3 separate regions of the Homo sapiens genome follow, and all the other regions are reported to be linked to region 2. Evidence: microRNA targets listed by miRTarBase, many of them from high-throughput screens and not tested one by one. Region 2 holds a microRNA gene; each other region holds the end of a gene's coding sequence. Distances are between the middles of the regions.

Region 1 (4,246 bases), not on the chromosome of region 2:
CTTTAAAAAAAAGATCCTTATTCCCTCTGGTTCTGTCTTCACTAGAGATGGAGAACACTATGGCATAGTATTTCTTACTTTGAACCCTTCAATAAAAGACTCAATAAAGCTTTATTAGCAAACTTAGCAAACTATCTCAACAGCTTTCTCCTCTCCAGAGTCAAACAATCTTTATTCCTTGAACTTTTTCTCAGAAGTCTTATTTTCTAATCTACATTTTCTTCCTTTTTATTTCTGCTCTACCTCTTCCTGAGTTCTCACATGATTCTGATACAACATCCTAGCAGGAACTGAATCCGTAAAAGGGATACTTTTTCTCACCTCCTAAACCTTGGCCTCATTTTAGTGATCACAATAAAGGAAAATGGTAGGTGCATACTCATCATAACAACAAATAAACACAAGTAAACAGGTGGGACACAGTTTATTCCCTACTGTTATGGTGTTACATTTGCCCTTCACGAGAAGCATTTCCCGTGTCTCTTTATATTGTTTGCTTATTTCTACTGTTTATTTCCAATGTATGCTTTGATCTTGCCCTACTAATTCTCTCCTTTTCTCCAAAGCTTTAGAAAATTCCAGTTTTGACTTTCATGCTCAATGAGAATGCAATCATTTTCACAATATTGTTCAAAAAGAAAAAGATAAACATTGTAGTGCCCGAGGCTGAGACCTCCTAGCCAGCACTTCTGTCTCTCCTGACCAGCTTGGGCTATCACTGAATTTATCCTGTTAGGCAAATGTGCACCTACTACATCAAGTTCATGTTAAGTATCATGCTCAGACAGACTCATGACAGGCTAGAATAAAATAATTCCCTCAATCGATACACTTCAGGAACATTTGTAAAATTTTGTTAACTTGAGAGAAGAACACTTCAATAACTTTTCACCTTAAGATGACTTAAATGTTGCATTATATTAAAGCACTCAAATAAAACTGTTTTCTTCATAATAGAATGACAGTCATGACATGGCTTTAGTAACTATGAATGAGCCGTTGATTCATTTTAGCTTCATTTTTGTTTATCAGTCACTGAAACACAGAACTAAACCAAATATACCTGTTTTTCATATATACAACATTATACCACTTTGCAGAATATATGCCATTTCCTAAATTACAATCTACATTCTTAAAAGCATATAAAACAAAAGATGTTTTACACATTTTAAAAATAAAACAAAAATTCTACACATATCTTCTCCAGTGCAAAGCCTTTGAAAACAAACTCATTGAGAAAAATGGTGCTCTACATTTAGCTAGCTGTCTATTATCTACAGTCATACAGTCATATAAGATCCAACAATAAGAAAGTAAGGAAGGAACAAATTAACAATAGTGGCAATACAATAGTTGGACAATTAGGTTTGGATTATATGAGCTCAACCAAATGTTAGCTGACAGCTGCAACAAACGAAACCATGATTTAAGGAACATTCTAATCAGTTCAAACTTTATATTATTATTTTATATGAAATAAATTCTCTAATTACAGTGCTATCTCCCATAAGCAATTTGTTTAGGTCTTGTTATTGTTATCTCCTAACTATACCCCATATGTATTCTGAGAACTATGTAGGACAAGATACATTTTAAGAAGATTAAACACAGCATTTCTTTTTCTCTCTCTCTCTCTTTTTTTTTTTTTTTTTGAGATAAGGTCTCACTCTGTCATCCAGGCTTCAGTGCGGCAGTGTGATCATAGTTCTGTAACTTAAACTCCTGGCCTCAAGCAATCCTCCTGCCTCAGCCTCCCAAAGCGCTGGTATTACAGATGTGAGCCACCAAGCCCAGCCTAAACAGCATTTCTCTATTAAACCTTTTCAGAAGACTGCATGATTAGCCAAAAGTGACTTTTTTTTTTTTTGAGATGGAGTCTCCCTCTGTTGCCCAGGCTGGAGTGTAGTGGCGTGATTTCGGCTCACTGCAATCTCAGCCTCCTAGGTTCAAGCAATTCTCCTGCCTCAGCCTCCCGAGTAGCTGGGACTACAGGTGCCCACCACCACACCCGGCTAATTTTTGTATTTTTAGTAGAGACAGGGTTTCACCATATTGGCCAGGCTAGTCTCAAACTCCTGACATTGTGATCCACCTGCCTCAGCCTCCCAAAGTGCTGGGATTACAGGCGTGAGCCACTGCGCCCAGCCCAAAAGTGACTTTTTGTAAAAAATTATTTTCTACACTAAAAGAAGATAAATAATAGTCATGCAATCAGAAATTCTACAGAAGTCAGCAAGATGTTAGAATAAACTGGACCTCTGTTTTAAAACATGTAGTTTTAGTATTTCATAATACTTAAAATTTGGATGTTTTATTCTTAGTAAAATTAACATTACTTCATAAAATAAAAGAATAAATCTACTTACAAAAATGTAATTCAAAAGTTAGACTGTCAAATAAATTCAGAGCTCCTTTCTCAGTTCAGATTTTTTTCTGTAATAAAAGGTTTGATAAATGACACAATTCTAATATGAAGATCCTTAACTACATTAAGCTTGCTTTTATTAAGATCTTTATTTATATTCCTAAGATTTTAAAATCAGCAAACTCACTTGATATAGAGGAAGCACCTACAGATTTTGGAAGATTTTCCTTAGCTATCTGCAAATTGACTGATTAAATTATGGTAAATGCAGGAACACTGTTTTTTCTGTTCACACCAGACCCTGAGAAGGCACTGAGAAATTTGATAAGAACAAAGCCAATAGGAGTGTTGCCACTATTGTTTTATGTTCAGTAAACATCAGAATTTTAAATACATACAGTAAATTTATACTGCACCAAGGGCACCTGAAACAGACATGCCAAAACCACACACTGTAACATCTGTTCTAAACTACAGAAATGCTAAATATCCTATTTCAAATACTCTAATTTGTAAATTAATACCTGTGATGTCACAATGACACTTTTTCATAACAATCAAGGAAAGTACCATTTTCTTGCCAATTTTATGGACTAATTTCCTTAACTAACCCTACAATTATATAACATTTACCTGTCTTTTTTTTTTTCTTTTACCATGCTATACACAATTACGAGATACAGAACTAGGCTTAATCACACTATAATAAGAAAACTCACTTTTGAATTGTGATGTTTCTGTTAACGGAAGGACAATACGTTACTATAATACTTTTAGTGTAATAACTTTTGTTTGAATTATGAAAAAATTTGAATCATTTCCCTCTAGACCATTTCATTTCAAACTTATACTTTGTTTAGTCTAGCCAGTTGACCAAAAAGAAAGAAAATAAAAGGAAAAAGATACTCGGCCAGATGAGATAGAGAGAGAATGCTAACACAAGGTTCAATGTATGCAGTTCTCGGTTGCTCTGTTCCATATGCCCACACAGTGTCATGACATATTGGTGTACCCCTAAACAGAACGCCAGATCAGTCCATTCTTACTAGGCTGAAGAAAATTCTCTATCAGAGCATCAATGAGTTTCTTCAGTTCTTCCTCCAGTAAAGCAGTGTCACTGAGGAAAAGATGAAGAGTTTTGGAATTATTTATTTTCATAGGCTTAAAATTTATTTAAATTAGTGTGATTTTTTAAGAGGTCCTGATGGAGTCATTAAACAATTGGTAAACAAAAGAGAAATTCACTTGGTTAAAACAAAACAAGACCAAAAAAAAAAATTACACACAAAGAAAACACTGCTATCACAAACTGAAGGTGAACTGCATTAATAGGAGTTCCTTGGCACATGATAAACAGAGGAGTGATGGTGTATCTAAAGAATTCTCCTGGGTCAGGAGAATGAGGTTCTAATGGCTTTGAACACAAATACCAGGTGTTAGGAGAAAATGGCTTCCTGAAATACTTTGAAAAATATTCAGTACAGATGTTATGGAATGATATATCTTTCAGGTAGCAGAAGGAGGTGTGACTAAAATAACGTGATGTTTAAAAAAATAAATGTGCACTTAAAAGAAGGCCCTTGAAAGTCATCACTGAGGTGCTGCCGTTGCCCAGAACATTTCGAGGCAAGCCTCTTTTAAACTGCCTTTACAGTCATTTTAAAAGCTACACAACAAATCAGTTCTTATTACTTTAATAATCTTCCTTCATTTTCAACCAGATGTAGCATTACCCAATTTGGTTTACTTTAGATTCTACTTTGAATGACTTCGGGGGCTCTTTATCCCCCCCAAAGGAAATGAAATCTATCCTTAAATGCAAAGATTTGGGGAAATACAAAATAGTATAGCTTGGTTGGACTCTGAAAGCAATTCTAA
Region 2 (4,246 bases):
ACACCCTTTCTTACCTGCTTGCTGAGTGGTTTCCATGCAACGTATTTGAAAAGATTCAAGAAATTTATGCACAAAAAAGGAAAAAGAATCCACTGCATCTTTTCCTCAGTTTTAGTTCCAGGTCTTCCTCTAACAAGATGTGTGATGTTGGGCAAATCATGTAACTTCCCTGACCCTCAGTTCTCATAAAAATTGTAGTTTTGACTAAATGATTGTAACTCTCCTAGTTCTAGTGTCTAGTTGTCTCTCTCTTATTTAAATTGGAAGTTGGTATAGAGAATTAGAAGAAAACTTCAAAGTACTATAATAAATAAAAGATATAGGAATCCCCAGAACTCACAATAAATTCTAATACCATTATCATAAAGATGATACCAAAAGTATTGTTTCTTATAATGTGTATATTCTCTCCTTTTATCATAATTACTAAAAATATTGTATTATAGATCCTTAGCCCATTACTTCCAGCAATACACTGTATATAATTTCCCAGATAATGTGCAAAGTGTTTTTTCACCCTTTTTCCAGAAGCATGGCGATAAATGTAATTAATACAAAATGTTTTAAAACAAATAACTTTTAAAAAAAATTACTTTAGGCCAGGTGCAATGGCTCACGCCTGTAATCCCAGCACTTTGGGAGGCCAAGGTGGGCAGATCACGAGGTCAGGAGATGGAGACCATCCTGGCTAACATGGTGAACCCCATCTCTATTAAAAATACAAAATATTAGCCAGGCGTGGTGGTGCACACCTGTAGTCCCAGCTACTTGGGAGTCTGAGGCAGGAGAATTGCTTAAACCCGGGAGGCAGCGGTTGCAGTGAGCCAAGATTGCACCACTGCACTCCAGCCTGGGTGACAGAGCAAGAGTCCACGTCAAAAAAAAAAAAAATTACTTTTACTACAAGCAAACCCTGAAGCATCCTGGACAGTCTTGACCTGTGAGATACCCTCTTACTTCCACAGTCATGGAAACTATGCATTTTCCAGATGGCATATAAGACCCGATACCTATGTTTTTCTAGAATCCCTTTGCAGTGGACTTTTCTTCTTCCTAAGGCCCATGGTGCGTGCATGGTCTCTAATGAACAGATGGCACTTGGTCCCTGGATGAGCTCTTGTACCTGCAAATCTTGAGAGCTTGGAGACAAGCAAGAAAATCATTTCAGACCCTCTCCTCCACTGTCAGCACCACTTCCCCACCCCTTTCACCTTGATCTGCTTGGTTTTGTGTTTTTGGGAAAACCCACTAGTTATTGGTCACTACCTGCTCACAAGTCAATGTAATGCTCCCCGTCTTGTTTCCATCTTGGTTTTCCTTTGTTTAAGAGGATGAAGCCACTTAGGACCCCTATATGAATGAGACTTGTTTGGTTGAAAGTTGACCCAAAGTAATAAGTGGTTTATTGTAAAGAGGAAAGAGGTCTATAAATAGAAAACCCTGGGGGACTGAGGCTGGCCTCAGGACCAGGGAATAGCAGAACACAAGTGTGCAAGTCAGAGAACTAGCCAAGAGTTTATAATCAAGCTTCTAAACAGGAAGTCTCAATTCAACTTCAAAAATTACTTTATAAAGAATTCAAGTGCCATGAAGGCATGTTTTAACTTGGCTTCTTTGGCTCAGAATAGTGTATATTGGTATCTCTAGTGGCTATCCCCTTCCCATTGTTAAAAACAACATGTGAAAAATCCTACAAAATAGGTAAAACACATTTTAAAGTGCCATTGACTGCTGAGGCAACTCACTTAATATCAACAAGTCTCAGTTTTTGGAAGAGGTATTGCCACCCTTTCTAGTCTAATAGGGACTAGAAAGGGTGGCAATACTCTTCAAAAACTTCACAAGGAAGTTGTAAGGAATATATGAGATCATCTATATAAAGCCCTTTGTGAACAATAAATCACGATAAACATAGACTTGTTGCATCTATCATATCACTTAGGGTTTTTTTTTTTTCTCTCACAGATTAAGGTAGTTCAAAAAGGAAGCCAGAATTTTCACTTTCTCTTTATTTCTGCTCCCAAAGAACCGTCAATTGCTTAAGGGATTGCTCCCAAAGAGCCTGGAGGTAGAGGACAGGAGGAGGCAGTTGTTTATTTAGTTTTTTGAAATGTTTCCAAGGAGAATGAAAACTAAAATTTGTGTGTGTCCTTTTTCATTTGCCTTCTGTCTAAATTGGAGTGTGGACAAAGGGCAGCCGCTTTGCTAGATGTGGACATTTGCTGAGCAGTATACTGTGCTCCAGTTGCAGGTGGATAGTGCCTAGCACTCCTCATTAGCTCATGGTTCTGCATCACATTCTTCAAAGAGCTGCTAAAGCACCCACACACCACCTGCCTGAGGGTGCAGCCAGGGCTGAGTGACATAGTGTGTGCCTCTCCTGCAGGTGCATTAATAAGGAGCCACAGGGGTTATAAGAGGCAGAGGGCTGAGAAGATGTTTCCTACAAATGGATCCGAAACACAGCCTGTTTGTATATGTGCAATTCATTGGCTTCTTGGAAACAATCCTTTGCCCAAAGTAACAGTTTATAATCGTGAAAATGTGACTAAACTTTAAAAGTACATGAGGAAAAGGACTATTTCTATTTTGCCGAGTCCAAGTTGGATTTGACTTTGGCCTTTCCATATCCCAAATGGTATCCACTGTTTTCAGCATTTTGGCCCTGAGAACAGCTGGTGAAGAAATTGATTGAGCTCAGAACAATCCTTCAGATGTCTAGAATAATCAACCACCTTCCATAATTTCAGTCTTACTAACTACGTGATATGGAGTGCACAGAAATCTGATTGACAACTCAATTAGTCCAAATTCCAGTTTGCTGCCATCCACACATCCACAATGTGCACACAAAGGTCAGCTAGTTTATAGAAGAGAAGAAGAAATGGGAGATTTATAATCGAAGGATTAAAGTCGATCACTAATGATCACTATTTAAACAAGGACCTGCTGTTACTTGTTAAACAAGGAAAGATTTGGAGGCTTCCATTTGTTAATGTCATTCAAACATCTGCTGTACACATTCTACCAATGGGCTATGAGCCACAGAACCCAATTGTGACTGCTGGGAACAGTCAATGGGGCTCAGTAAACTGCCTTGAGGAAATGGTCTGCCACAAACATCTGTAGTTATTCTTCAGCTGAAAGGCCAATATTTCCAGGGCAGCTGGGTCCCTCTAAGTCAGTGATTCATAGCTTCAGCTGCACCCTGCAATCACCTAGGAGCTTTAAAAAGTACTGATGTTCATCTCATCCCCAAGACCCCAGGAACTTCCATTTAATTGTTCTGGGGTGTGACCAGGCACACAGGTGATTCTGATTTTCAGTCTGGTTTGAGAATTCTTGGTCCAAACAGACAGGACTTGGTAGCTGGAAGATGTAACCACCAAGCCTCCCATATAATTTAATTAGCACGGCAAATTTGGGCTCATTTGTTCTGCTGGATTCAGGCACTTCACTGGGCAGTGGAAAATTTCTCACCAATTCACTGCCCTTTTGCCTCCAGCTCACCGTTACTTTTTAAACATCTTATTTCCTTTTGTTATTTTCAGTAACCTTCTGTAATTGCAAAGGCTTTTTAAAAAATGTCTTTTTGGGGGCACTTCAGCATATTCAATTTGGTTTCCTTCATATTTTAGTTTGGCTTCATTGATATTTATTTTTTGTATTCTAGCTGTTTCTTGGATGGTTCTTATTTTTCTACTAGATTCATGTTATTTGCAAACACTATGCACAGAATCACTTCTGGTGAGAAAAGGGACAAGAAGAATAAAGTACTCTTATTTTCCCCATGACCCCACACCCCACAGAGTCACTGAGGCTCCCTTTTGTAGATACTAAATGGGAGAAGCATTAACCAGCTTCACCCATCTGCTAACCACCTTGTGCAAGGTGAGCCTTCTGGTCTCCCTGGAGCATGTACAGTGTGTAAAACCTGAGGTATTATTTAGACCTTGATGTGTTACTTGGCAACAAAAGAGGAAACAAGTATAATTTGTTAGATAATAATCTGGCACAAAAGTGCATACAAAGACAATTAGGAAATGTAAAACACAGATTCGTTTATCAGTTATAAGTATACCCAATGCCCTAAATGAGTAGACACTTAGTATCCACTTTAGCCAATGCAGCCATGATCTCCCTCTCCTTATGTTTCATTGTCTTTTTTATAAGAAGCTGGTGTGCAAGGTTGATTTCAAACCAGTAAATTGCATATGAGACCCAGCAAGCTCAGGATCAAAACACA
Region 3 (4,241 bases), 29 Mb from region 2:
CCTCTCCTACCTATACTCCTTCGTAGAACTGCAGTACCTTTACAAGCTAAAGTTCTTTACCTTCCTTTCATCTGCCAAAATCCAGGAAAGAAGAGCCCATAGTGAAATAAATACTTACAGTCACCCCACCCCCTAAGTTGCTTGCAATGTGTCATCAGCCTCTATAATTCAAATCTGCTTTATCAGTGGCATCAATCTTCATCCTACTGAAATATCTATTGGTTGACTAACACCTTCTGTTTTGAATTTGTTCCTCCTGTCTGACCAGTCTTCCTCTGTCACCCCTAAGCAGTAGCCATGTCTCTCTGTTCTAATTACTCTTACTTCTCTTTTACCCAATAAAGCCCACATAGGTTGTCAGGCTCTGAGAGTTCTCATGTCCTGGTCTCAATCTTCCATCTTTCTCTTCCTTTTCCTTTTATTATCACATTAATTGACAACTCACTGTTCAAGGCAGGTCACCTGTGCTTTCCTTTTTCCATGGTTCCCTCTGGAATCTTCATTCAATGCCCAGCTTAAATGTTTCCCCCTCCATGAACCCTGCTCTAGTTCCCCCAAGCTATAAATCACCACTTCAGACTCCATCGACCAGGTCCAAGCTGCCACCTGCTCATGACTCGACATTTGTAAAAGCTTCCCAACTAGTATTCCTGCTTTTTTGCCTTTCTCCTGTTTCCTCTATACAATCACCAGAATGATCTCTCAATCAAAACTCTTCACCATGGCCTACAAGGCCTGGTCTCTGCTAACATTTATTGGCCCAGGCACACTAAGCGCCTTTTAAAAATTCATTAATTTAATCCTCTCAATAATCCTACGGCTATGTACTTTTAATATCCTCATTTGCAGTAGATGCTGTTGGTGACTTACCCAGACCCCTTTCACAGGACTGGTGCACCCATACCCTAGCTGCTGTAGGTGTTGGCTGGTAAGAACTGACACCTCCACCCTTATCTGGAGGATTGCCCTTGGCTGAGGAGAGGTAACAGTCACTCCTCCATCCTTTCTCCCTGTAGCCAGTGGTCCGTGACAGCCTGATGTGGGAACCTAATGGCTCAGCCCCTTCAACTCTGGGCAGGACAACGCTGGGCCCAATTCATTCAGCAGAGTGCCCTATGAGTCAGGGTGAGGCTGCACTACTCCTGAAACTCTTCTTCCCCGGCCTTACCCTGCTTGCTTTACTCCATTACAGATTTCTCCTGAAAGTGCTCCCTCAATCACTTGCCCAAGAATCCCCATCTCCGGCATTGTTACAGAGGAAGTGATCTAAGACACCATTTTACAGATCAGGAAACCTAAGACAAAGAGGGCTGAAGTGATCTGCCTAAGGTCAAACAGAAAATGGGAAAGCTGAATTTTGAAGCCAGAGGGCCTGGCTGTCCCACCTGAGCTCTTTCCCACCATACTGCAGTGGCCACTTCTCCAACCTCCTCTCTCTCCTCACCCATCCCCTCTAGCCAACTTAATTCCTCCCTCAGGCCCTTTTTACTTCCTGTCCTCTCTGCCTAGAATGTGTTTCCTCTCACTGTGGCTCGCTTCCTCACTTCTTTCAAAATGTTCCAAATACTATCTCAGAGACCTTTCCTGACCCCAACCATACTACCTAAGATAGCAACACTATTCCCCCGTTCTGCTGTAGTTTTATTTATAGCATTAAATACCTGAAATTACATTATGCATATATTTCCTTTTCTGTCACTTACACCAAGATGAAAATTCCCTGAGGGCAGGAATATTGTCTGGCTTATTTATTGCTATATCCTCAGTGCTTGGTGACGTACCTGCCAAAGAGCAGGAGTTGAGTGACTATTTGTTGTTGAATGACTGAAATTGAGTTCTCTTCTGTCAGAACTCTTACCAGGCTTTGTGAGATATTCCTTACGAGTTCTTAATCTATAGCTGTAATTATTTAATGCATATTTATCTATCACACAAGCTTGTATGCTCTCAGAGGACAAGAATTATGTTTTATTCATTTGGGAGTACATAGGCGGTATTTAAACAATGGTGCTATCTTAAACACCAAATATCAACTGCAGTTCACTTTTTCCGTGTGGGGACTAATATCAAGATTTCATATGAATTATAGTATAATCCAGAAGTATGAAAAAATACATCATATTTAACTTATAAAGCATTCATCTGCATGTTATAAGATATTACAGTAAATACAATTAGGTACTTACCATTTTATCTTTACTTTAAAAACAATGCCTTTTCCAAAATATAAAAAAAAGACCTATTTTTAAAGAACTATTTAAAGATGGCTTTGAAAACAACACTTTTATTTACAACAAATAGATGGTAGTGCAACAGCACTCGTGGATGTTTACGATAAATAAAAATACTAGTATTCTGGCATCCTTTGGGTACAGGCCCTTTTATATTTATAGATGTCTACAATGACTCATAAAAGTAAAATCAATAAAGGCTATTAATTTGTATTTCAACCTGAATTTGAGAAACCAATGAAGATTAATCATTTATTTGGGATCTAGATCCATATATCTGAAAACTGAAGTATAAAGTTTCTCATTTCCATTTACCTTGTCAACAAACATATCCCAAACATTTCAGCATCTGTAAAAGGTGATCTATTTAGCATCTGTAATAAGTGATTTATAGTTATATATGCTAAATAAAGGTTGACACAGCTGGATCCTAGAAGCTCAGATTTTATAAATTTAAAATAGATTAAGTATTTATGCCAAAAAACAAGAACTGGATCTAGGATTTTATTTTAAATTATGGAAGTCTCTGGGGAAAAAAAATAGCAATGGAATGACAATAGATGTCAGATATTTCTCTGAGAAGTATATAGTTTCTCAATTTTCGCTAGGTAGTGCATCCCAACTGAATTAAAACTAAAGCATATTTACAGTGCATTTTTTCTCACTAAAATTTCCCAATTCTAAAATGGTCTGGCCAGGCGCAGTGGCTCACGCCTGTAATCCCAGCACTTTGGGAGGCCAAGGCAGGCGGATCACAAGGTCAGGAGATTGAGACCATCCTGGCTAACATGGTGAAACCCCATTTCTACTCAAAATATAAAAAAAAGTTAGCCAGGCGTGGTGGCAGGTGCCTGTAGTCCCAGCTACTCAGGAGGCTGAGGCAGGAGAATGGCGTGAACCCGGGAGGTGGAGGTTGCAGTGAGCTGAGATCACGCCACTGCACTCCAGCCTGGGCGACAAAGCAAGACTCCATCTCAAAAAATAAATAAATAAAAAAATAAAATAAAATGGTCTGGATTTGGTCAACACCTTATTCAGTAAATCCTTAATTTACCTTGAGACATACAAAGACATTCTTTTAAAGAGCTATTTTCTTGGTATTGCACAAAGGTTAATTTTAAAGCAATCCAGGCAAGTAAGCTCACAAAAAGAAGTACATTCATCTAATCCATTTAGCAAATGTTGCAAATCAGCTTCCACCAATAAAACGTAGAAATCTGTGAAACTCTATCCTTCGTGTCAGTTTTAACATTGTGTTGATGGCAGCCATTTCAGGCAGAGGTAGCCAAGTTCCATATATATGGGGAAGGCAAAAAGCAAGAAAAACATTGCAGGAGACTTAGCAGTTCTCTGGCTTCTAATGACTATAGAGCAATTTCGAATATGAGCCATGTTTCTATGCAGAATTCTTCTTTTATGCCTTAAACACAAAAGAGCTTGTTGCTGCCTTGGGCAGATATACTGGAATTGTCCTCTTTGAGCTTACTTTCTCTTTTCTCTAAGGTCAAGTAAAAAATGTGAGACGTTTTCATATACCACAAAGGTAATACAGCAGGCTGGAGTCACTCTAATCAAATTAGGAGCAATTCCCTTGTAAAATCCACCGACGCCTTCTTTCCTTTAGAGGGAAAAATAGATAATGCTTAATTTTGTATAGAGCTAGCTTGAAAACACGGAAGTTCTAACTGACACAAGGCATGGAGCAAGCAGCAGTCAAACCTTACTCTGATTTAAGTTCATGTTTTCAATGTCCTAAAGTAATGTAGTTTATAAGCCATCTGTAGGGATTTACATTCCTTTTATGGATGGACTGAGTAAGAGAGGGTAGGGACACCTCAAAACTGAACTAAAAAGTGCTTTCAATTAGCTATCTTTCAAATGCTTTTAAATGTATGTACAAGCAGGAGTTTTAATTGACCTAATGTAGGCATTAAAAAACCTCATAGCTTGGATAAATGCTAGCCAACATTAAATACAGCACATACAAATATAAAACTTTATTTCCTTAAT

The links. The annotated mature microRNA hsa-miR-5681b reads AGGUAUUGCCACCCUUUCUAGU and lies in region 2 at 1,776-1,797, shown strand. An mRNA with a match to its seed (bases 2 to 7 or 8) in the 3' UTR can be bound and repressed. Matches are read on the target gene's strand: a 7mer-m8 pairs with bases 2 to 8, a 7mer-A1 pairs with bases 2 to 7 and ends in A, and an 8mer does both.
Region 1: the mRNA of PGM2L1 is a reported target of hsa-miR-5681b. Seed matches in the 3' UTR shown: 7mer-A1 at 1,767-1,773.
Region 3: the mRNA of SLC25A32 is a reported target of hsa-miR-5681b. Seed matches in the 3' UTR shown: 8mer at 3,327-3,334.

Annotation. Positions count from the first base shown.
Region 1 is chr11:74,333,270-74,337,515 of GRCh38, forward strand. PGM2L1 (phosphoglucomutase 2 like 1) reads right to left here. Exons shown (of 14, transcript NM_173582.6): 14 at 1-3,485. The coding sequence ends at 3,383. The region is part of intron 2 of LOC112268078 (a long non-coding RNA gene); the gene reads left to right. Among named protein-coding and RNA genes, the nearest start is that of P4HA3, 24 kb to the left of the region's middle.
Region 2 is chr8:74,546,135-74,550,380 of GRCh38, reverse strand. It overlaps MIR5681B (microRNA 5681b), which reads left to right and starts at 1,772; the gene lies at 1,772-1,831. MIR5681A (microRNA 5681a) reads right to left here and starts at 1,838; the gene lies at 1,764-1,838.
Region 3 is chr8:103,396,698-103,400,938 of GRCh38, forward strand. It overlaps SLC25A32 (solute carrier family 25 member 32), which reads right to left. Exons shown (of 7, transcript NM_030780.5): 7 at 1,941-3,849. The coding sequence ends at 3,714. Among named protein-coding and RNA genes, the nearest start is that of SLC25A32, 16 kb to the right of the region's middle.